7 linked regions of the Homo sapiens genome follow. The protein of the gene in region 4 purifies or fractionates together with the protein of the main gene of each other region. This does not show direct contact. Each region holds a gene or a part of one and is shown on either strand. Other genes may lie near its edges.

Region 1 (2,399 bases), on a different chromosome or scaffold from region 4:
GCCAGCACGCACAAGTCGTAGGCACGGCCCGCCGCCAGGTCATTCACCAGGAAGGTCTGACTGGTGGACGGGATCATCCTGTAGGAGGGGGCGGGTTCAGGGCGGGGTTAGTCCCCCCGAACCACGCCCCTTCGCTTTATGCCCCGCCCATGGTGAACAGTGGGGACTAAACCCTGCTATCGAAGTCTCAGCCGCTACTGAGACAACAGCAGCAATTCAAGCCCCGCCTCCATCAACATATTCCCACCCTTTCACACCCCTCATCTGTATGCCCCGCCCTCAGACCCACCTCCTGGCTGTGTCCCATCACCCACTGGGACAATATATCTATCATTCGTATTACCTCCTCTGCATATCCCGGCCCCTGCAGGGGAGAAGTGCTATGGCTTTTAAGCCCTGCCCTCAAGGGACATGCTCCCTAGCTATGTCTCACTCTTGCTAGGACAACTGCCATTCAAGGTCCTTCATCTAGGCATTTCTACCCCAAAACTGGGCCAACGCTACTGGCCACCTCCCCTTTTCTGCATGCCCCATCCCCCACTCAGGTGGACACTAAGGTCAGCTCACAGCGCCTGTCATATTCCTACTGGAACAATGGATGCTCTTCTAGTTCCTCTTTTATACATATTCCTGCCTTTCAGGGAAAACCATGATGCAGGTCGCTCCCCCTTATCTGCATGCAGCACCTTTGGGTAAAACATCTAGCTTTGGCCGGCTGCAGTGGCTCACGCCTGTAATCCCAACACTTTGGAAGGCTAAGAAGGGTGGATCACCTGAGGTTAGGAGTTCAAGACTGGCCTGGCCAACATGGTAACCCTGTCTCTATTAAAAATACAAAAATTAGCCAGGCGTGGTGGCAGGCACCTGTAATCCTAGCTACTCGGGAGGCTGAGGCAGGAAAATCGCTTGAACCCGGGAGGTGGAGGTTGCAGTGAGCCGAGACCACATCATTGCACTCTAGCTTGGGCTACAAGACCGCAAGACCGAGACTCTGTCTCAAAAAACAAACAAACCAAAAAAAAAAAAAAAAAAAAAAAAAAAAACCATCTAGCTTTGTCTATGTCCTGGAACAGTTTCCAAGTCCCTTAACTACATGTTCCCTGACATTGCTACAGGCCATTCCCCAACCAAATGAAATGTGGCTTCCAGGCACACCCCACAATGGCCCACTAAGGATGGTTCCCCTACTGTGTATAGGCCACATCCAGACTACAGGCCCTGCTCCTTGTCCAGATATTAAAGGCAACCACCTCATATGTTCATGTGCCACCAGAAGTCACCAAATCACGCTACCAGGTAAGTTTCTTCCGTAAAGGGGTCAAACGTAGCCAAGCACACACCATATTCCTTTCTTGCTGTAGGCCCCTCCCCTCGAATGAAGACTAGTGTAGAGAAGTGGTTAAGATGACAAAGGCTGGGGGCCAGATTGCCCGGGTTTGAGTCTCTCCTCTGCCACTTGCTTGCTCTGTGACCTCAGGCAAGTTTCTCTTTTGTTTCATTTTGTTTTGTTTGAGACAGACTCTCGCTGTGTCACCCAGGCTGGAGTACAATGACGCGATCTCGGCTCACTGCAATCTCTGCCTTCCGGGTTCAAGTGATTCTCCTGCCTCAGCCTCCCGGACAGCTGAGATTACAGGCACCCACCACCACACCTGGCTAATTTTTGTATTTTTAGTAGAGATGGGGTTTCGCCACGTTGGCCAAGCTGGTCTCAAACTTCTGACCTCAGGTGATCCATCCGCCTCGATCTCCCAAAGTGCTGGGATTACAGTCATGAACCACCACGCCCGGCGAACTTCGCCAAGTTTCTTAACCTCCCTGTGTCTCATTTTCCCCAAATGGGGATGATAATAATTCCTACATCATAGAGATGGTGTGAGGAATGAATGAGTTAACACAGCCAGGACCTGGCACTTAATGATATCATCATTAGCTTGCATCACACCTCGTGTTGGCCAGTAACCCTTGCTGTGGCTCACACTATCCAGCCCATTGCATTCCTCCCATCTATAAGATCTACCCCTCTGGAGGGCCATTCCTGCTAGGCCTTGGCCCTCTTCTGTTGAGCACATCGTTTCCACACTGTGGGCCATGTCCAGCCTCAGCTAAACCTGGACTGCCCGTTCCACATTGATTGGCATGGCCAGGATGCAACCTCACAAGCTCTCTTCTCCAGCAAAGACTCTTGGTGGGTCCCGGGAGACAAGGACTGCCCCTTCCTCTTCGTGGGACCATGCAGAACAAGCTCCACCCCCTCTGACAGGCCACATCCCCACCTCCGAAGGCCTGCTTATCTCTCCGATGCTTCCGCTTCCCCTCCAGCAGAGCCACCTTCTGGCCCTGAAGCTCCACCTCTGTCATCCCACCTCCAGGAGGTTCTCCCACTACCAAGAGCCACC
Region 2 (2,548 bases), on a different chromosome or scaffold from region 4:
ACAATAATTAGATCTTTTTCCAAGTTAATTGGGTTTTCCCTTCTCCCAGTCATAGGTGGTTTTTATCATCAAGACAGACTGATATTTTGTCAGGATATTTTCTTTTACAGTGTTTGATGTGCATAATGCCAGAGTTATTTTTTTATTATTCATTTTCTCTCTTTTTGTTCAATATGAGATTCAGGATCATATTTGTTTAAAAGGTAACACATAGAGATGTATGTATATATTTTGTTATAAGACATACAAAATAATTTTAAGAGGGATAAAGGTGAAAATATCAGATTCTGGAAATTTTAAGTATCTAAACTTTATACTTGTATGATTTACCATAAACATACCAAAACATTTTTCTGAAAATTTACTGTCGGTCTCTGACATGAAACCGTATTTTGTCAGTAGTTGACCAAGCAGTTTTATGAGAACTCTTCTATGCAATGATGCATTTAATTTCTAAAGTAAATGTTGAATTATTAAAAAAAAAGTTTGAAGGTAAGATGCCTTAGAATTTTAATGAAAAATGACACTCAAACAAAGGCTATATGTCGAATGTTATAAACTCTTGAGACATAATGAATTTTAGCAGTGGCCTAGAGTAAGGTAATGCTTTGTGACTGATATCTACTAATAGACTTCTGTTACTTTGGGCCTCACATAAAATTTCTCACATTCGTATTCTTAGAGAATTTTATACTTTTTTATTATAAGTATTTTGCCCTTGAGTCCATGAAACTTCAATAGAAAATATTGCTTATACAATAATTAGCTTAAAATCCATCCAAAGGAAAAGAGAAGAGCTTTTTTTGAGTGTTAAGTTTTTTAATTTAGTATTCTGTTTGGAAAAGATGTTAAGAGTTCAAATATGCTTCTTATGTAACAGAAATACCATTATTTCTGGGGTTTAGTGACACAGGCTGGAGAGGACAAAAGTTTCCTGTCCTGAATGATTTTTCAATTAATGCTCTAAGCTTAACCCATGTTGGGTAATAGAAAGACATAGCCAGCAGTATTACTACGTAGACCTTGCACATCTTACTTTTGTTTTGCATTTTTAAAAATTTCTTAATTTGTTTATTTCTCTTCAGAAATAGCGTTTTTAACAGTGTATGTGCTTTTTTAAAAAGTATTGTGAATGAGAACCCTGTGGATTTTTTTTATTTCATTTGTTTGTCATAATAAGCTAACGTAGAAATGTTGTAGGTTAACCATATCTGTGGAAATATGCAGTTGGAAGTCAGAGCCTGACATCACATAGTTTTGCCAAAGGGAGAGAGCTAAGCTGGAAGATGTTTTTGATACTTTCGGCTCTAAACATTAATGGATGTTTGCGTAGAGTAAGATAGCGTTCAAATTTGGTTAATAGTTTATAGATAGACTTGTGGCCTCTGACTGACTAAATTTCTTAACAGCACAGAAGTCGTTGTTTTTCTGTCTTTAAAATTTATTCATTCAGAAAATTAGTCATTGCTTTTTAAGATTATTTTAGCATTTGAAGCAAATTGAAAACAGAAAAGTGACTTAAAATAGTGTAGGTGAATTTTTTATCTATAATTTACCAAATAATACCTGATAATAATTCAAAGAAAATATGTTACCAAAATATATTAAATATATAGGTAGTTCATTCGTGGGAAGATGAATCTTCTTATTAAGCCTGCCCTCAATTGTAAATAAGTGACTCAAAAACTCAAAATGTTCATCAGCATTCAGGTCATTTGTTTCACCCTTAGCCAAGAAGAACTCATTAGAAATTCAGTTATAATTTCAATTTAAGCCTGTTTATGATAAGCATAATGATTGGCATGTTATATAGCCTGTTGAAAATAACTACAGAATGACCTTCCAGAGCACTGTTTTTGGCCTCGTGCCCGCTCTGTTCAGGCTCTGCTTGTTTTTCAGAATATGATTTTTACCTCCAGACAGTAAGAATTGAACAAGAACTGATCAAACACACCTTCCTATTTTGTTTTCTTCACTATGTAAATATTATTTGGGCAAACATTACAAAAAGGGATCCAAACAATTTGAGTTTCAGTATTTTTTTCTCCCTAGGCATGTGCTTCAATTTCAAATATTTTTTTCTGTGTGGAAAATGCCATGTAACTATTGCACTACCTTCTGTGTGGACTGTGTTGGTATTGGTTCTTTCTGTATATCAAAAGTCAGGGTGTTTATAACTGCAAAGTTTGTATAAGTGGCTTTATTCCTCTTCTAGAAGATTTATGAGGAGCCTAGGAAGCACTATTGGTACAGGAGGAAAAAAGAATGGAAAACATGTTTACAGACTCTAGCTTTCCTTATTAGCTTAAACTGGGGCCCTCAAAGAGCAGCCTGTTGATCTTTTGGCCAAATGACTTGAGCATAAGTCTTTTATTTCTTTTTAAGGTTAAATCGTAAACTGTATACCTTTACTACTGAAAACAAAACTATAGGGCATCATACTAATTGAAAATCAATAGTAATGGGTTCCATCCATTAGCTTTTTAAATGAATAGATCTGGTATTGATTTCCTTCCTGTTTTTTTGAGGCACATTCCTTTACAACCAG
Region 3 (3,500 bases), on a different chromosome or scaffold from region 4:
TGGAAGGGCCTCATCTCCCTCTGGCCACATGATCTCATCTAAAATGAGGGAGGGAGGTAAAATGAGGGAGGGAGGGAGAAGGCAGGGTACCCCTTTCTAGTACCATCCACCATTTCCCCTCACTTCACTGTACTCCAAGCCACTGGCCTCCTCTGCCCCTGCAACGTGGCAGGCTTGGTACCCACTGACAGCCTTTGCCACAGCTGTGCCCTATGCTCAGAGCCACCTTTCTCTTTTCTGTCTCTATGGCTTTCTCTCATTCTCAGGTTCTTGCAGGTCTCTGCTCACATGTCACTTCTTTTTTTTATTTTTTGAGATGGAGTCTCGCTCTGTCACCCAGGCTGGAGTGCAGTGGCACAATCTCAGCTCACTGCAACCTCTGCCTCCTGGGTTCAAGTGATTCTCTTGCCTCAGCCTCCCAAGTAGCTGGGATTACAGGTGCCCGCCACCATGCTCGGCTAATTTTTGTATTTTTAGTAGAGATGGGGTTTCACCATGTTGTCCAGGCTGGTCTTAAACTCCTGACCTTATATGATCCTCCCGCCTCAGCCTCCCAAAGTGCTGGAATTACAGGTGTTTGCCACTGTGCCCAGCCTCACAAGTCACTTCAGTGAAGCCTCTGTGACCCTATAATTAATCCAGCCACCCGCCTCACTCAGCACCCCACCGCCTCCCCACCTGGCATCCAACTCCCTCCCCTCTTCCTGCTTCTCTCCCTGACATGCGGGTGGAGGACCGCTGCCCAGAGCTCTGGTGGGGCTGCAGCTCAAACCCAGGCCCGTGGAGGAAACGCACCGCTGACCACCTGACCGAAGAGTTCCTCGGGGGTATCTCCAAAGAAAGGCACGCAGCCCACCAGAAACTCATAGAGGACGACGCCCATGGCCCACCAGTCCACTGGCTTCCCATAGCCCTGGCGGAAGATCACCTCGGGGGCTATGTACTCCGGCGTCCCACACACCTGGGCCAGGGAGAACGGGGAAACTGAGGCCAGCCCCCAGCCCAAGAGAGGTCCCAGGAGAGAGGAGGAGGCATCCCGGGGCTGCCCACCCACCTGCCCGCCCACCTGCTTGTCGATGAACTCTCGGGCGTCCTTCTCGATGTGGCCCTCATAGAGGTTGGTGGCCATGCTCATGAGGCCGATCTTGGACAGGCCGAAGTCCGTGAGCTTGATGTGGCCAAGCGAGGTGATGAGCAGACTGTGGGCAGGTTAGGAGTGTGCTCAGAGCTGGGGGGCTGGGGTGCCTGGCCTCCCCTTCTGCCCTAGACCTTGGCTCCGCCTGAGATGGGCAGAGCTCTGCCTCCAACTCCTGGGCCCTAGCGATCCTCCTGCTCAGCCTCCCAAGTAGCTGGAACTACAGGTGCACACCACCACACCCAGCTAAGGTTTTTTTTGTAGACATAAGGTCTTGCTATGTTGCCCAGGCTGGTCTTGAATTGCTGGCCTCAAGCAATCCTCCCACCTTTGAAAGTGCTGGCATGACAGGTGTGAGCCAGCATGCCTGGTCTCTACTGTGTGTGCGTATATGTGTGTGTGTGTATATATATATATATTTTTTTAGTGTACTTTTAGTAGAGACGGGGTTTTGCCGTGTTGGTCAGGCTGGTCTTGAACTCCTGATCTCAGGTAGTTCACCTGCCTCGGCCTCCCAAAGTGCCGGCACAGAATTGTTTCTTTACAGAGCTGGAGCAAACAGGAGGTACTGACTACATAGTTCATTAAATGATGGTTATACACAGTGAATTCTCTGGAATGTATTTTTAAGTGGCAGATGCACCCAGAAGGTGCACGGAAATGCGACTTCATACAGCTGGTGCATAAGACACTATGATGTAGCAAAACATTTATATATTTAAGTCCATAGGAAAACCTAAACAGCAGTATATACTGTACTTGCGTGAGAGTTTTAAAAATGAGTTCATTTGCCGGGCGCAGTGGCTCACAACTGTAATCCCAGCACTTTGGGAGGCCGAAGCCGGCAGATCACCTGAGGTCGGGAGTTCAAAACCAGCCTGACCAACATGGTGAAACCCCGTCTCTACTAAAAATACAAAAATTATCTGGGCGTGGTGGCGCATGCCTGTAATCCCAGCTAATTGGAAGGCTGAGGCAGGAGAATCGCTTGAACCAGGGACTCTGAGGTTGCAGTGAGCCGAGATCGCACCACTGCACTCCAGCCTGGCGACAGAGTGAGACCCCGTCTCAAAAAAAAAAAAAAAAAAAAAAATTAGCTGGGCGTAGTGGTGGCGCATGCCTGTAATCCCAGCTACTCGGGAAGCTGAGGCAGGAATATTGCTTGAACCCGGTAGGCGGAGGTTGCAGTGAGCCAAGACTGCGCCACTGTACTCCAGCCCGGGCGACAAAGACTGTCCCTGTCTCAAAAAATAAATAAATAAATAAAGATAAAGTGTTCTGGGCCAGGTACACAGTCATTGCCTAATAACTGTTCTTCTGCCTATTTTGTATACACCTGGTGCCTAACAAGTACATGCCAACCAAGAAAATGTGATATAGAAACCCAACGTTAGTGTGTAAGGAGTTATTCATGCTTCTGAGTTCCTTAGAGCATCGAGCACAGGCCCAAGTATACAGCAGGTGCCACATACATGTCTGTTTTCTAAGCCACTTGCCAACTGCAAAATGCCCTGAAAACATGCGAGGCGCTTTTTTTTTTTTTTAAGATGGAGTCTCGCTCTGTCGCCCAGGCTTGGGTGCAGTGGCACGATCTTGGCTCATTGCAACCTCCGCCGGGTTCAAGAGATTCTCCTGCCTCAGCCTCCTGAGTAGCTGGGACTACAAGTGCGCGCTACCACTCCCAGCTGATTTTTGTATTTTTAGTAGAGACAAGGTTTCACTATGTTGGCCAGGCTGGGCTTGAACTCCTGACCTCAGGTGATCCGCCCGCCTTGGCCTCCCAAAGTGCTGGGATTACAGGTGTGAGCCACCAAGCCTGGCCTACATGCAAGGCTCTTAACACTCATGTTCACATCTCCACACATGTATGTGAGAAATGTCAGTTCTTGCCTCGTATCTCGAGGACACCTGACAAACAGGCATTCCTTTTTCCCTGCACACAGCAGGCGCTCAATAAATGCAGAGGAGAAAATAATACAGGGGTTTCAAAGCAGGTGGCCCTGTGTCTCCCAGTTGCCCACAGAGGGTCTGGCATGCAGTAGGTGCTTACCACCTACCAGAATAAAATAAACATCCTAAGGCTCTCAGTAAACACGTTCTCTTCCTTGCTTTCCTGCACTAATATACAGCAGGTGCTCAAGACATGCACGGTCACTGTCTTTACATGTAAGGTCTCGCAAATTGCATAATCCTGTTCTGTGTGTGTAGTTGGTGTCTTATAAGTGCATGTTCTCTCCCCTTGTGCAGCAGCAGCTCTGGGTGCGCAGCCCCTTCTCCTGTATACAGTGTGTGCATCCTAAGTGCACATCCTCTCCCCTGGATTGGCAGCACCTCCATAAGTGCACCGGCCTTCCCCTGCATACAG
Region 4 (3,500 bases):
AGTGAGGGAGAGATGGGTAGGGAGCTCAGTGAAGGCCTCTCTGAGGAAGGGGAGATGCAGCAGAGCCCCCCTTCGTGGGGAGCAGCCAGGCACTTGAGGTCCGGAGGGAGGGAACCCCAGCAAGTATGGTGTTTGGGGCGGCAAGGAGCCACTGGAGGACCAGCCAGGAGGCCTGTGGTCGGAAGCATGGGCGTGAAGGCCCATGTCCCTGCCACCGCTTTCCATTTGCAGGTAGACATTGAGCTCAATGGGGAGCCTGTGGACTTGCACATGAAGCTTGGGGACAGCGGGGAGGCCTTCTTTGTTCAGGAGCTGGAGAGCGATGATGTGAGTCTGCCCTCCTAACAGCACCTGCCCCGCCCACCCCTTTCCTGTGCCTCTTCTGGGCAGAGCCTTGGGATTTGTCACCATCCTCGCCCTTCCCCGGGAGCACCCCACCAGCAGAGGTCTGAGGCAGGGGTATCAGTTGGGGCTGGCCTCTGGCACACGTGATATGCTGTGGGGGCCCAGAGGAAGAGGCCAGGGTACCAACTGACTCTATTTACTGGGAAGTTGGGGAAGGTTTCTCAGAAGACTGGACCCCTGAGCTGGGCCCCTGTGGGATGAAAAGGAGGCCTTCCCCAGGCAGCTTGAAGAGGAGGCGGGAGCTGAAGAAAGGGGCTGGGAAGTATAACATCTGGCTTGTCCTGGGTCTGGTGCCAGCTCCGTGTGGCTGGAACCTAGAAGTGTGTAAGTGGTGGGTGTTCGCACAGGGGAGGCAGGGCCCAGCAGAAGCCAGCAGAGGAGTTGAAACAGAACTTGAAAAACTTTGAGTCCCTACTGTAGGCCAGACACTGTGCAACAGACTCAGATGACGGGTGACCCCTGCCTTCAAAGAAAGTTCCAGGCTGTTCTGGGAGCTAGACACATAAACAATGGATGATGAGCCGTTTGGTCATTGCAGTGAGGGATGTTGGGATTGGGAGAGGGATAGTCAAGGCTCCTTCCTGGAGGAGGAGACATATGGCTGAATCTTAAAGCAGAAGTAGATGTCTGCTGTCATAGACTTGGGTAGAAGAGGAGATCAGAGGCCGATGCCAAGATCTCTGCCTGGCCTGCCAGGGTGGCAGGTGGCTCTGTTGGGGACCTCTGAGGCCAGCAGTGGCTACAGGGCCAGGCTGGTGCCTCCACACCTGTTTTCCTGACCCTAAATGAGCTCACTCCAGGGCTGGGACCCAGGCAAGGCTCAAGATGACTGTGTGGTGAGCGCAGCCCCACTAGGGTCAGCCCCCGACCTCAGTTCTTGGTCTGTTCCACAGGAACATGTGCCTCCCGGCCTGTGCACCTCACCCATCCCTTGGGGGGGTCTGTCTGGCTTCCCCTCGGACTCCCAGCTGGGCACTGCCAGTGAGCCTGAGGGCCTCGTCATGGCAGGCACGGCCTCCACTGGGCGGAGGAAGAGGCGTCGCAGGAGGAAACCCAAGCAGAAAGAGGATGCAGTGGCAACTGATTCTAGTCCAGAGGAACTGGAGGCAGGCGCTGAGAGTGAGCTATCCCTGCCGGAAAAGCTGAGGCCAGAGCCCCCAGGGTGTGTAAGGACCAAGGGACTTGAACCCCAGTTTGGGGGTTCAAGTGCTGTTTCCTCTGCTCATGCTGTGTGACTTTGGGCAAGGGCCTTGACCTCTCTGAGCAGTAGTTGCTTCACCTTACCAAGCCCCTGATGTCCAGGCTCTCATGCCTGCCTGGGGCATCCTGCCTGATCAGTGACCATTTCCTTGTGGCCCCTTAGCAGTGTCCAGTTGGAAGAGAAGTCTTCACTGCAGCCCAAAGACATCTACCCCTACTCGGATGGCGAGTGGCCCCCCCAGGCCAGGTAAGAGTCCAGGTGGGCTGCAGGCCAGGACTCCAGATCAAGGTCTGAGGTTTCCATTTGCATTTTTCCTGATGACTAATGACACAGGACCCATTTAATGTGTTTACTAGCCATTCGTATTTTTCCTTTGTAAAGAGTTCAAGTCTTTTATTGATTTTTTTAAATTGCGGTAAAATATACATAACATAAATTTACCATTTTAACTATTTCAAAGTGTATACAGTTCAGTGGCATTAAGTACATTCAGTGTTGAATGACCATCACCACTATCTAGTTCCAGAACATCCCATCCCCCAAATGGAAACCCTATGCCCATTAGGCAATCCAGCTACAACTTTGCCATCTTCTTTTTTTTTCCTTCCTTCCCTTCCTTCCTTCCTTCCTCCCTCCCATCCTTCTTCTTACTGGATTGTCTTCTTCTTGTTGATTAGTATAAGTTATTCATATATTTGTATACTCTTTAGATCTTTACATATTCCTTATATATTATGGATTCAACACAGGCATAAATATAGGTTGCACATATTTTTTTCCCTGGCTGGGGTGGGCAGCAGCGGGGATGGGTAGGCAGGCTCAAGGCCTCTCAATATGTCTCCTGCAGCCTCTCAGCAGGTGAGCTAACATCCCCTAAGAGCGACTCGGAGCTGGAGGTGCGGACCCCGGAGCCCAGTCCCCTAAGAGCCGAGTCCCACATGCAGTGGGCCTGGGGGAGGCTGCCTAAGGTGAGTCCCTCTGTATCAACCCCAGGCCCGGCCTTTCAGGGGCTCTGTGGCCCCCATGGGTCAGGGTTGGAGGGACTGAAACTCGGGCCACTGCCCCAAAAGCTTTGTGGGGCATGGGCCTTACCCTGGCCCACATCTTCCTCCATTTGTTCCACTAAAGGTGGCCAGAGCTGAGCGGCCCGAGTCCTCAGTGGTCCTTGAAGGCAGAGCTGGGGCAACCTCTCCTCCTCGGGGAGGACCCAGCACTCCCTCTACCTCTGTGGCTGGCGGCGTGGACCCTTTGGGACTCCCAATCCAGCAAACAGAGGCTGGTGCCGACCTTCAGCCTGACACAGAGGATCCCACTCTAGTGGGTCCCCCTCTCCACACCCCAGAGACAGAGGAAAGCAAGACTCAGAGCTCTGGGGACATGGGCCTCCCTCCTGCCTCCAAGTCATGGAGCTGGGCCACTCTGGAGGTTCCAGTTCCCACCGGGCAGCCAGAGAGGGTCTCCAGGGGGAAAGGTGAGTGACGCTGGGTCTCTCCCACTGCCTCCCTGGCCTCGCTCTGTCCCCTGGGTGGGTGCTGGGACTTCAAGTACATTTTGAGCACCTGCTGTGTGCTAGGTGCTGTTCTTGGCACCAGCCTCATGAAGCTCACAGTGCAGTGTGGGAGACAGATGCTGCATGTGTGGAAGGGCGTGCCACAGGCATAGTCATTGGTTGGAATGGGAGCTGTTTAAACCAGGTGGTCAGAGAAGGCCCCTCCGAGAAGGTGATGTTGGAGCTAAGACATGGATAATGAAGATTCAGCCAAGTGAGGAGCAGGGGAAGGGAATTCTAGGCAGAGGAAACAGTATGTGCCAGGGATGTAAGGCTGGAGAGAAGTTTCATGTCCAGAAACTGAAAGCAGCTGGCGTGCCTTGAGCAAGAAATGGAAGACGGCCG
Region 5 (3,500 bases), on a different chromosome or scaffold from region 4:
GGTCATGTAGAGTGAATCAGAAATTTAACATGCTCTGGTTGGGTAGAAGAGTATAGCAGATACAGATGCCTTTTGTGCCTAGAGTCACATCTAGTTGGTTTACTCTGATTTCAGCTGCAGGGAATGCATAGTCTCTGCATGCAGATAGAAACCCACTTTAAACATTTGCTGTGTGTGTGCGTTTTTTCCGCCTCTCAATTTTGTTCTTGGAAATTGACTTAGCTAGTACATGGGTATAGTGCAGAAGCACTGGGGAGTTAAAGCCCCTTGCAGCAACATTGCACCACAGGGAGTTGGTAGGTGAATGCCCCAACCTCCTTTCCATTAGCGAGTGGGGCTGGGCAGTCCAAGGCGTGTTTTACATGGTTTTACAGAGGGTCCCCTGGAGGATTGAGCTTCTGTGGCCCTTAGTGGTAATCAGCTCAACCATATGCCATTCATTGGTTATTTCTTTTTCCCTGTCTAGTCCCCTTACTCCTGCATCCAAGTTCTTAGATACCGCTTTGGGGGTAACCCAAACTAAGAAGTCGGCTGTTTAATGCTGTTGTTAGCTCATGCGATATGCTACATGTCTGATTTTATCAAACAGTTGTAAAATGTTATAAGGAAAGGGGAACTGATTTTTATCAGTTTTATCAAAGTGTTTGGCAGGTTTTAAAAATTAATTTAGTATTATTTCTTAAGCTTTTAAATTATGTATATTCTTGTTTTTTGATTACCTAATTTTTAGAATTTAGCATTAGTTAGGTGTTAGACTAATAGGTTTTATATAACAAAAGGGCTGTGTAGAGATATATGTACATATTTATGTTTAAAGATTCTTTTGTAGTGTTATTTATACTTGGAAATAATCATCCAACAAGAAATTTAAGTACGTAAGTCTACATGGTGTAATGTATAGCTATAAATATGCTTATAGAAAAGACTATAAAGTTACATTTCAGTTATTATAGTATGACCTCATTTTTTAAAAGTATGAAAAAAATATATATATATAAATTTGGAGATTGTCCAGAATGTTAGCAGTAATTATTTCTAGCTGAATGAATCTGTTTGACTAATAATAATTTTCTTCGAAGTATCCTACATTTAAATGCATTTCCCATGAAACAGTTCTTCTGTTATACTGGAAGGAAAGACCTTTTTTCTTTAATCCTTAGGTAGCTCTTGAAAATAGTTTAGTGTGATACTCATTTTAAATTATTTTACAATTAACAAAGAAAAATTAACATATATTAACTTCTGATACATTTGTCTTAGGTTTGGAGCTGTTCGGGATGTTTCTGTATATTTCACATGCCCTGTATCCAGAAGTGGGCTAAAGACAGCCAGTTTCTTGTATCTTCTGTGACTGATGATGATTTTGGAAAGAAAGATTGTCCCTGGCCTTGGTAACTTTTTCTAATTAGTTGGATTATTATTATTATTTTCAGATGGAGTTTTGCTCTTGTCACGCAGGCTGGAGTGCAGTGGCGATCTTGGCTCACTGCAACCTCCACCTCCTGGGTTCAAGAGATTCTCCTGTCTCAGCCTCCTGAGTAGCTGGGATTATAGGCACCTGTCACTATGCCTGGCTAATTTTTTGTATTTTTAGTAGACACAGGGTTTCACCATGTCTGCCAGGCTGGTCTTGAACTCCTGACCTCAGGTGACCCACCCCAAAAAATCCCAAAGTGCCAACTAGGCTGGCACGCCACCACGCCTGGCCTAATTGGATTATTAAATTGTAGAATAAATGAAGATTGTAGATTCTAAGTTGCTTTATTGGTGGTTTCAATATCCATGTTGGGCTTTTAATTAGTCATTTGGTGTGTGAAGATGTGGAATCTTGATAAAGTCTTGTTTTTTTCAATTTGAATTTCTATAACTACTAGTTCCTTTTGATAACTAATAAATCATCCAGACTTAATTTTTCCTGTGCAAAACAATTCCTTAATTATCCTTTGAAAGGACTTTCAATTTTCTTTAGGACTGAGAATCATTCATAATTGTGATCTTCTTGTCCAGAATTCTATGAGTATGCATTATTATTACATTGTACAAGACTATCATTTAATGTATTTTGATTATAAGATTCCCAGTTTTATCCTCCCAAATCTCAAAACTGCAGGTGTATATTATACAATATCATTTTTTTACATTTATTAGTTTTGCTTATTATTGATGATTATTTGATCTGGAGAACTTTTGTTATATTTCCAGAAAGAGTTGGAGAGTAGAATTTTATATCTCTGCTAAGTAAAGACAATAAGAAATTTATTCATATTGGCTGCCCAGAGAGGTAGATTGACTGTCAAAGTAATGAAGCATAAGCTTCATGGGCTCTGTGTGGTCACATTTTGTAACTTTAGTAACTAATTTTATGTTTAAATTTTTTTTTTATTTTAATTTTAATTTTTTTTGAGACAGAGTTTTGCTGTATTGCCCAGGCTGGAGTGCAGTGGTGCGCTCTTGGCTCGCTGTAGCCACTGCTTGTCGGGTTCAAGCGATTCTCCCGTCTCAGCCTCCAGAGTAGGTGGGATTACAGGTGCCTGCCACCATGCCTGGCTAAGTTTTGTATTTTTAGTAGAGATGGGGTTTCACCATGTTGGCCAGGCTGGTCTTGAACTTCTGGCCTCAAGTGATCCACCCACCTTGGCCCCTCAAAGTGCTGAGATTACAGGCATGAGCCACTGCGTCTGGCCAGTGGTGTAGTTTTTAAAAACATTTAGATGTGCTAGTTACTTTTAGAAGAGTATGTAAAAATAATTCTCAGCAATCTGTGAGAGATTTTATTCTCCTGTTACCAGTGGGGATATTGAAGTTAATTGAAGGGAAATGACTTCTGACTCCTCACTCTTAAGTAGTGGAGCCAAAATTTGAAACCTAGGATTTCTTACTTTTAAATTCAGTGCTTTTTCTATTCTTCCACCTGAGTTATCTCTTATGACCTGGCTTTTAGAAATATTATTTTTCTTTTCATTGAATACACACTTTTTGGAAACTGTTTAACATTTCAAAGTATATTTGTTTTGCTCCTGCATATTATTTACTGGTGGTGGAGGAATTTTAGTGTCTAATAGGTACGGAATTAAGCCAGGTTTTAGTTTAGAGATTTAAACCTTATGTATATATTTTTTTACCCTCGCTCTTCTCACTTCTGTTTTAAGTAGTCGTTTTGCCACAGAGGAGGAAAGGATCAGTTAAAAAAAATGTACTGTTAACTTCTAATTTAAAAGGAACAACAGTTTAATCAGCTGTGCCATATACTTTGCATTCCATATTTCATATTTTTTTAAGAAAATAAATGACCATTCTGGTTAAGAACCCATTTTGTTTAATCCTCATCAAGATGGAGCTAGAACTTGGTAAAATGTTAATAATTTTAAGTTATTTTATGGAAATAAAAAATTTAAAATATAGGTTTCTACTAAGATACTGCTTTTTAATGAAGAAGATCTAGCATAATTACATTTCATTGTTGGCATCCCATTATTTAAAATAAAACTCATGCGTTTGCA
Region 6 (3,500 bases), on a different chromosome or scaffold from region 4:
CAGTGAGCCGAGATCGCACCATTGCACTCCAGCCTGGGCGACAGAGCGAGACTCCCTCTCAAAAAAAAAAAAGAAAGAAAAGAATACACCTGGCTTAGCTCTTCACTATAGGTTAAGGAAGAGCGAGATGCAGAAGCATGGAGGACAGGACCCAAGGTTAAAAATACAGAAATATGAGGCCAGGCATGGTGGCTCACGCCTATAATCCCAGCACTTTGGGAGGCCGAGACAGGCGGATAGCTTGAGGCCAGGAGTTTGAGACCAGCCTGACGAACATGGAGAAACCCTGTCTCTATTAAAAATACAAAAATTAGCCAGGTGTGATGGCAGGTGCCTGTAATCCCAGCTACTCAGGAGGCTGAGGCAGGAGAATCGCTTGAACCCAGGAGGCAGAGGTTGCAGTGAGCTGAGATTGCACCATTGCACTCCAGCCTGGTTGACATGGAGAAACCCTGTCTCTACTAAAAATACAAAATTAGCCGGGCATGGTGGTGCATGCCTGTAATCCCAGCTACTCGGGAGGCTGAGGCAGGAGAATTGCTTGAACCCAGGAGGTCGAGGTTGTGGTGAGCTGAGATCGCGCCATTGCACTCTAACCTGGGCAACAAGAGCAAAACTCCACCTCAAAAAAAAAAAAAAAAAATACAGAAATACAGAAGTCAAGCCAGGTGCCTTGAACTTGTACTTCCAGCTACTCAGAAGATTGCTTAAGCTCAGGAGTTCGAGACCAGCCTAGGCAAAATAATGATGCACTGCTACTCAAAAAAAAAAAAAAAGAACCCAGCAGATTTATGTTTGTCAAAAATCATCAACCTACACACTTAGGCCAGGCACGGTGGCTCACACCTGTAATCCCAGCACTTTGGGAGGCCGAGGCGGAGGGATCACCTGAGGTCAGGAGTTCAAGACCATCCTGGCCAACATGACGAAACCCTGTCTCTACTAAAAATACAAAAATTAGTCGGGCGTGGTGGTGGGCGCCTGTAATCCCAGCTACTCGGGAGGCTAAAGCAGGAGAATAGCTTGAACCCGGAAGGCAGAGGTTGCAGTGAGCCGAGATCGCGCCACTGCACTCCAGCCTGGGTGACAAGCGAGACTCCGTCTCAAAAAAAAAAAAAAACAAAAAAACCTATACACTTAAAATGTGTGCATTTCATGTAAATTATTTGTAGAGGGATGGGTAGAATGTCTCAATGCCCCATTGGTGGTTTAGTCTCTCTGCTCAGAGGGTCATCAGCCACAAGAAGGTGCTCAGCGATAAGAATGGGCCTGTTTCCCAGCAGCCCAGGCTTCACTGCCCACCTCCCTGCTATCCACATTGTCCAAGTGGCACATCCCACAGTCCCACAGTCACTCCTTTCAAGAAGCCCACATCCCTACCTGTAAGCCATATCCAGGGACTTTGGACAAAACAGGGGAGGAATTTGCCATCTTCTTCTGTGATCTAAGAGATCAAAATACACACACTCATTGAAAAAGAAAATATATATAGGTCCAATTTAAATATCTTATGCTGAACTATGCTTCTTGCCTCCAATGTGACCTTTCCGCCTCCCAGCAGTTACCTGGCAGTACGTTTCTCTATTTGGACTGTCTATGCCGAAAAATGCATCAGCACAATCAAATTTTCCTGTGAAAAACTGTGGGCCTCGCTTCTAAGCCCCAACGCCTGAACACCTTCTCCTCTCACTTCATGCTGCTATTCCAGGGACAAATAGTGACTCAGCAGCGGCGGAGCTGACTGCTTCCACAGGAAGACATGCAAAATGGGCCCACATCAGCCATCAGTCCATTAAAAAAAGCCTATATAAAGCCCACTTCAGTCTTGAAGGAATCCTAAGCTGAGATGAAACAGAGTCACCCCCAGGATGTCTGACCTACCTAAGACCTACTAGGCTAAAGTCAGCATTATTAAGGGTCTCTCTCCAGCAGCATGGCCAAGATACCCACTCACATTTAGCATCTCCAAGGAACTCTAGCATTAGATGGCAAGCTCTGTGGGCACTGGGCCCATGTTCAAGTGTTCATCACTGAATGCCCAGTACCTGGCAGCTTCCAGCACAGGGCAGGTGTTCATGTCTGTGGAATGAATGAGTGAATGAGCAAGTGAATCAACGAGAAGGGAGGCCAGTCGCCACATGCTCACCTCCCTGCACTGTGCTCATCCTCGCTGCTGGAACGATCACTACTCGAGCTTCTGTGCTTATGTTTCTTGTGCTTCTTTTTCTTCTCCTTCTTTTTCTTCTTCTCCTTTTTTTCCAGACTCATTTGCAACTGGAAAATGCCGAGAACACAAGCACACAAGATTACTGAGACCAGCCAGCGCAGTGGCTCATGCCTGTAATCCCAGCACTTTGGGAGGCTGAGTGGAGCAGATCATCACTTGAGGTCCGGAGTTCGAGACCAGCCTGGCCAACATGGCAAAACCCCATCTCTACTAAAAATACAAAAATCAGCTGGGTGTGGTGGTGGGCACCTGTAATACCAGCTACTTGAGAGGTGAGGTACAAGAATCACCTGAACCAGGAGGCAGAGGTTGCAGTGGGCCGAGATTGTGCCACTGCACTTCAGCCTGGGTGACAGAGTGAAACTGTGTCTCAAAAAAAAAAAAAAAAAAAAAGATTACTGGCTGGGCATGGTGGCTCACGCCTGTAATCTCTCAGCACTTTGAGAGGCTGAGGTGGGAGGATCACAAGGTCAGGAGTTCGAGACCACCCTGGCCAATATGGTGAAAGACCATCTCTACTAAAAATACAAAAATTAGCTGGGTGTGGTGGTGTGTACCTGTAGTTCTAGCTACTCGGGAGGCTGAGGCAGAAGAATCACTTGAACCCAGGAGGCAGAGGTTGCAGTGAGCTGAGATCACGCCACTGCACTCCAGCAGCCTGGGCGACAGAGTGAGACTCCATCTCATTAAAAAAAAACAAAAAGCCCAGGCGGGGTGGCTCATACCTGTAATCCCAGCACTTTGGGAGGCCAAGGCGGGTGGATCACAAGGTCAGGAGAAGGAGACCATCCTGGCTAACACGGTGAAACACCATCACTACTAAAAATACAAAAAATTAGCTGGGCATGGTAGCAGGCGCCTGTAGTCCCAGCTACTCAGGAGGCTGAGGCAGGAGAATGGCATGAACCTGGGAGGCGGAGTTTGCAGTGAGCTAAGATCGTGTCACTGCACCACTGCACTCCACCTTGGGCAACAGAGCGAGACTCCGTCTCAAAAAAAAAAAAAAAAAAAAAGATTACTGAGACCCCTATCAGTCTCCTTTGAGGGGCGTGGCTCATGCACAAACTGCCTGACTCCATGCCTCTGGGTCTACAGAAGTCCAGGACATTATAGGGGTTCCCTGTCAACACACCAGGGGAAGGGTCTTAACCCTGGCCGTGCACTAACACCCCCAACTACTGAACTGGTATCTGGTAGGTGAGACTAAGAATTTGTGTTTTTAAACAGTCACCAAAACCACTGCCTAGGAGTTTCCATTCTGTGTCACAGGAAC
Region 7 (3,500 bases), on a different chromosome or scaffold from region 4:
TTTACCTATGCCCCAGGGCCTTTGTTCTGCCCAAGGCCTTGTTTTCTGCCTTAGGACTCATGACCATAACCAGAGGCTACCATGCTATACTGTGGCTTTGACACTAAAAGAAGGGGAAAGCCTTCTCTTTTAGCTTAGTATTTAAGGGAATACTGAAAACCATAGGCTGCCTAGTCGGCGTTGTTCCCCACCCCACCCCCCAGTCTCTGTTTCCAGGGGTTCTCAGGAATGACATGCCTGTGAGCGTGTTCCTCTAGGGAGAGCACAGACCTCAGTCACAGCTGGGGTCTTCTCTTGTTTTGTTTTATTTTTAATTTTAAGTGTTTCCTAAGTAAGGAACCAGTTAAAAAAAGGAACAGATCAGAGAAGCCTCTGTGAAATAGAAAGAAAACGATAATTAATGAGCACCTACTATGTGCCGGGAACTGTGCAGGGCTTTTAAATACTGTATCACACTTGATCCTACCCCCGGGGTAGGTATGGATGAGAAAATACACTATACACTTGGGGGTTATGAAGCTGGTCAGAGAATTGAACCCAGGTCTGTCTGACACCCCCTCTCCCTCTAGTCTCTGTAGTCAGTGCAGTTTCCTTTACAGACGTCATCCTCCCGGACTTTACAGGACACCTTCTCACCTGTCCCTTAGAAAGCCACAGTGTAGTGCATGTAGCAGGAAGGTGTGGGGCTCAGACCAGGGTCCACGTGAAATGTGGACATGTGTGCGTTTGCCTCCTACATGCATGGATAACTTCAGGAGCTTCACTGGAAAGGGTTGGTGTTTGGCTTCCGGGCTGAGAACTTTATTAGAAAGGCAAAAAGAGGGAAAATTAAAACTATTTTAATATTCTGGGCAGATAAAGTCCAGTGAGCAGTCGCAGCGCTACACAGGACAAAGGCAGAAGGAACTTTCAGTCCACAGGCCACGCGGCTTGAGCCATGTCAGGCACGTCTAGCGTCCCAGGCGTTCCATCCATGAATGTCAAAAAATGTACAAATAATTTGTTTTATTCCCAAGTTGTCTATTTTTTATATCTCATCAATGACTCATTTGCACACCTATTGTAATGACAGGATTTTGGAATGGCGGAGGAATTTGCTACTAAGGCCCTGGAGCTGAAACCGAAATCTTATGAAGCTTACTATGCGAGAGCAAGGGCAAAACGCAGCAGCAGGTGAGGAGAGAGAGAGAGGGTGAAAGCAAGAGGTCTCTTTTCTGAAAATTTGGCCAAGGCAGCGTCGGCCACCCTGGGGCATATGTACCCAAATACATCTCTGTCCTTGAGAACTGTCAGGGCCAAGCTTTGGGGATGGCTCCCATAGCACAGCCCTCAGCTCAAGATCAGCAAATCTGCTGGGCTGTGGAGGCCACGAATGTTTCACTTCGGGAGAAAAACACTTTTTCACTGGAGAATGGCAGCTTCTTCCAAGAAGCCTCTGCCGTATCTCAGGCATTTTTCAACCCCCAGAGCAGCTAGCACAAAGAGACAACGGCGACTTAAAGAAATCACTTAAGCAGAGCACCCCACCCCCGCTTTAGAGGGAAAGTAGGATGGTTCACTTAACATCACAGGTTCCTCTTCCTTCTCCCATAGGCGTTTGAGGAATCCCGGATTAGTTAGTCTTCCCTCTGGGGCTCTCCTCAAGTCTGGTGGCATCAGACCCCCTTCCACCTAAACCATCACCCACCACACACACACAGAGTCAAGAGGTCCTTGCTGCCAGGATGGAGAGGACCCTCTAAGAGAACACCATTCCACATTCCTTGTGCCCATCTGCTTTAGTTTGGCCACTGGGCAGAAAAGCTCCCAGAATAACCTAGAACCTGCCATCAGTGATCTTTGTGTAACTTGTCACTGTCTCTTATGCCTCCTGCCCTCCTCCTCCCCAGCTGCATGGGAAAGAACTGCTTCAGGTTCACTGCTATGGCCAGGGGCACATGGTCCCGAAAATCACACCCAGCTTGAGGCTAGTGATGGTGGTGGCAGTGATCGCACTCTTACCTAGCTGGGGCAACGAAGTCCTCACAGAAATCTGACTGAAATTCTCCTTCCCTCTGGGTAGTTCCTTTTTCACAAGGTCAGTTGCCCCTGTCAGGTGATATTAGTAGAGAAGATGGGAATGTCTCTGACAGTTCATTTCTTCATTTGTAAATTAGAGTCTCCTTGGAGTCAGCTCAGCTCCAGCCCCGAGTGACCTAGTCAGCAAGCCTAATGCCTGCCCCACTTTGATAGAGCAAATGGAGACACAGCAATTCTGAGAGATGAGGGTTAGAAAGGGCAGAGGACAGGGTTCTTGCCTAGAGTAGAACAGGCCTGAAATTTGGAGCTAAAATATTGAGAATATAAAGAAAAATTTCTGCTGGATCAGCAAGATTTTTAAATATGTAGTTTTTTTTGTTCCTAAGCTACTTGACAGTGACCCTGTAAATGACAACCCCACCCAACTCTCATACTGCCTGGTGTGTGTTTGGGCACCAAAACAACTTCCCGAAGGGCCTGGCTGGACTGACAAAATGGGGCATTTCTCCACTATTCCCAGAGAGGCCAGAAGGAAGATGGAGGCCGAATGGGTTAGGGAATCATTCGGACTCTTCCAGAATGAGTCTTCCTGTTTCCTTCCCTATAAATCCAACTAAACCGAAATACCCCAGACTCCCACAGACGCCACCACAGCTCTCTGAGATAGTGACCATGTTCTCAGCTCTTGGTGATTTCTCTGGATTCAGAATAACTCCAGTTCCTGTGTTCACATTTTGTCAAGCAGACAGTTCGCAGCAGCCTTAGAGGACCTGAACGAGGCCATCAAGCTGTGTCCCAACAACCGTGAGATCCAGAGACTTCTGCTGAGAGTGGAAGAAGAGTGTAGACAGATGCAGCAGCCACAGCAGCCACCGCCGCCACCGCAGCCTCAGCAGCAGTTGCCGGAAGAAGCAGAACCTGAGCCACAGCATGAAGACATATACTCTGTACAGGATATATTCGAGGAGGAGTACCTGGAACAGGATGTTGAAAATGTTTCCATTGGCCTCCAGACAGAGGCCCGGCCCAGCCAGGGGCTCCCGGTCATCCAGAGCCCACCCTCCTCTCCCCCGCATCGGGACTCAGCCTACATCTCCAGCTCACCTCTTGGCTCTCATCAGGTTTTTGACTTCCGGTCCAGTAGTTCTGTAGGCTCTCCCACTAGACAGACCTATCAGTCCACCTCACCTGCCCTTTCTCCAACTCATCAGAACTCACATTACAGGCCTAGCCCACCACACACTTCCCCGGCTCATCAGGGAGGATCTTACCGTTTCAGCCCCCCTCCTGTGGGAGGACAGGGCAAAGAATACCCAAGCCCTCCCCCTTCCCCTCTCCGGAGAGGCCCTCAGTATCGGGCCAGCCCTCCAGCTGAAAGTATGAGTGTCTATAGATCCCAGTCTGGTTCACCCGTGCGCTATCAGCAGGAAACAAGCGTCAGTCAGCTTCCTGGCAGACCCAAATCTCCATTATCCAAAATG

What was found.
Region 1: the proteins of LPIN3 (region 4) and LRFN1 purify together in Homo sapiens (affinity purification with mass spectrometry, with the first as the bait; one large-scale study listed by BioGRID). This does not show direct contact.
Region 2: the proteins of LPIN3 (region 4) and RALGPS2 purify together in Homo sapiens (affinity purification with mass spectrometry, with the first as the bait; one large-scale study listed by BioGRID). This does not show direct contact.
Region 3: the proteins of LPIN3 (region 4) and MAST3 purify together in Homo sapiens (affinity purification with mass spectrometry, with the first as the bait; one large-scale study listed by BioGRID). This does not show direct contact.
Region 5: the proteins of LPIN3 (region 4) and NFXL1 purify together in Homo sapiens (affinity purification with mass spectrometry; one large-scale study listed by BioGRID and IntAct). This does not show direct contact.
Region 6: the proteins of LPIN3 (region 4) and CWC25 purify together in Homo sapiens (affinity purification with mass spectrometry, with the first as the bait; one large-scale study listed by BioGRID). This does not show direct contact.
Region 7: the proteins of LPIN3 (region 4) and TANC2 purify together in Homo sapiens (affinity purification with mass spectrometry, with the first as the bait; one large-scale study listed by BioGRID). This does not show direct contact.

The regions. Positions count from the first base shown.
Region 1 is NC_000019.10:39,308,465-39,310,863, forward strand, and holds part of LRFN1 (leucine-rich repeat and fibronectin type III domain-containing protein 1 precursor), read right to left. Parts: intron 79-2,399; coding exon 1-78. UniProt on the Homo sapiens protein: Promotes neurite outgrowth in hippocampal neurons. Involved in the regulation and maintenance of excitatory synapses. Induces the clustering of excitatory postsynaptic proteins, including DLG4, DLGAP1, GRIA1 and GRIN1.
Region 2 is NC_000001.11:178,917,244-178,919,791, forward strand, and holds part of RALGPS2 (ras-specific guanine nucleotide-releasing factor RalGPS2), read left to right. Parts: 3' UTR 1-2,548. UniProt on the Homo sapiens protein: Guanine nucleotide exchange factor for the small GTPase RALA. May be involved in cytoskeletal organization. May also be involved in the stimulation of transcription in a Ras-independent fashion.
Region 3 is NC_000019.10:18,132,278-18,135,777, reverse strand, and holds part of MAST3 (microtubule-associated serine/threonine-protein kinase 3), read right to left. Parts: intron 1,200-3,500; coding exon 1,067-1,199; intron 962-1,066; coding exon 796-961; intron 39-795; coding exon 1-38.
Region 4 is NC_000020.11:41,347,321-41,350,820, forward strand, and holds part of LPIN3 (phosphatidate phosphatase LPIN3), read left to right. Parts: intron 1-231; coding exon 232-327; intron 328-636; exon of another isoform or gene 637-729; intron 730-1,298; coding exon 1,299-1,567; intron 1,568-1,768; coding exon of another isoform or gene 1,769-1,771; coding exon 1,772-1,852; intron 1,853-2,453; coding exon 2,454-2,574; intron 2,575-2,734; coding exon 2,735-3,077; intron 3,078-3,500. UniProt on the Homo sapiens protein: Magnesium-dependent phosphatidate phosphatase enzyme which catalyzes the conversion of phosphatidic acid to diacylglycerol during triglyceride, phosphatidylcholine and phosphatidylethanolamine biosynthesis therefore regulates fatty acid metabolism.
Region 5 is NC_000004.12:47,901,084-47,904,583, reverse strand, and holds part of NFXL1 (NF-X1-type zinc finger protein NFXL1), read left to right. Parts: intron 1-1,260; coding exon 1,261-1,391; intron 1,392-3,500.
Region 6 is NC_000017.11:38,808,322-38,811,821, forward strand, and holds part of CWC25 (pre-mRNA-splicing factor CWC25 homolog), read right to left. Parts: intron 2,275-3,500; coding exon 2,147-2,274; exon of another isoform or gene 1,955-2,146; intron 1,445-1,954; coding exon 1,381-1,444; intron 1-1,380. UniProt on the Homo sapiens protein: Involved in pre-mRNA splicing as component of the spliceosome.
Region 7 is NC_000017.11:63,417,235-63,420,734, forward strand, and holds part of TANC2 (protein TANC2), read left to right. Parts: intron 1-1,072; coding exon 1,073-1,173; intron 1,174-2,761; coding exon of another isoform or gene 2,762-2,764; coding exon 2,765-3,500. UniProt on the Homo sapiens protein: Scaffolding protein in the dendritic spines which acts as immobile postsynaptic posts able to recruit KIF1A-driven dense core vesicles to dendritic spines.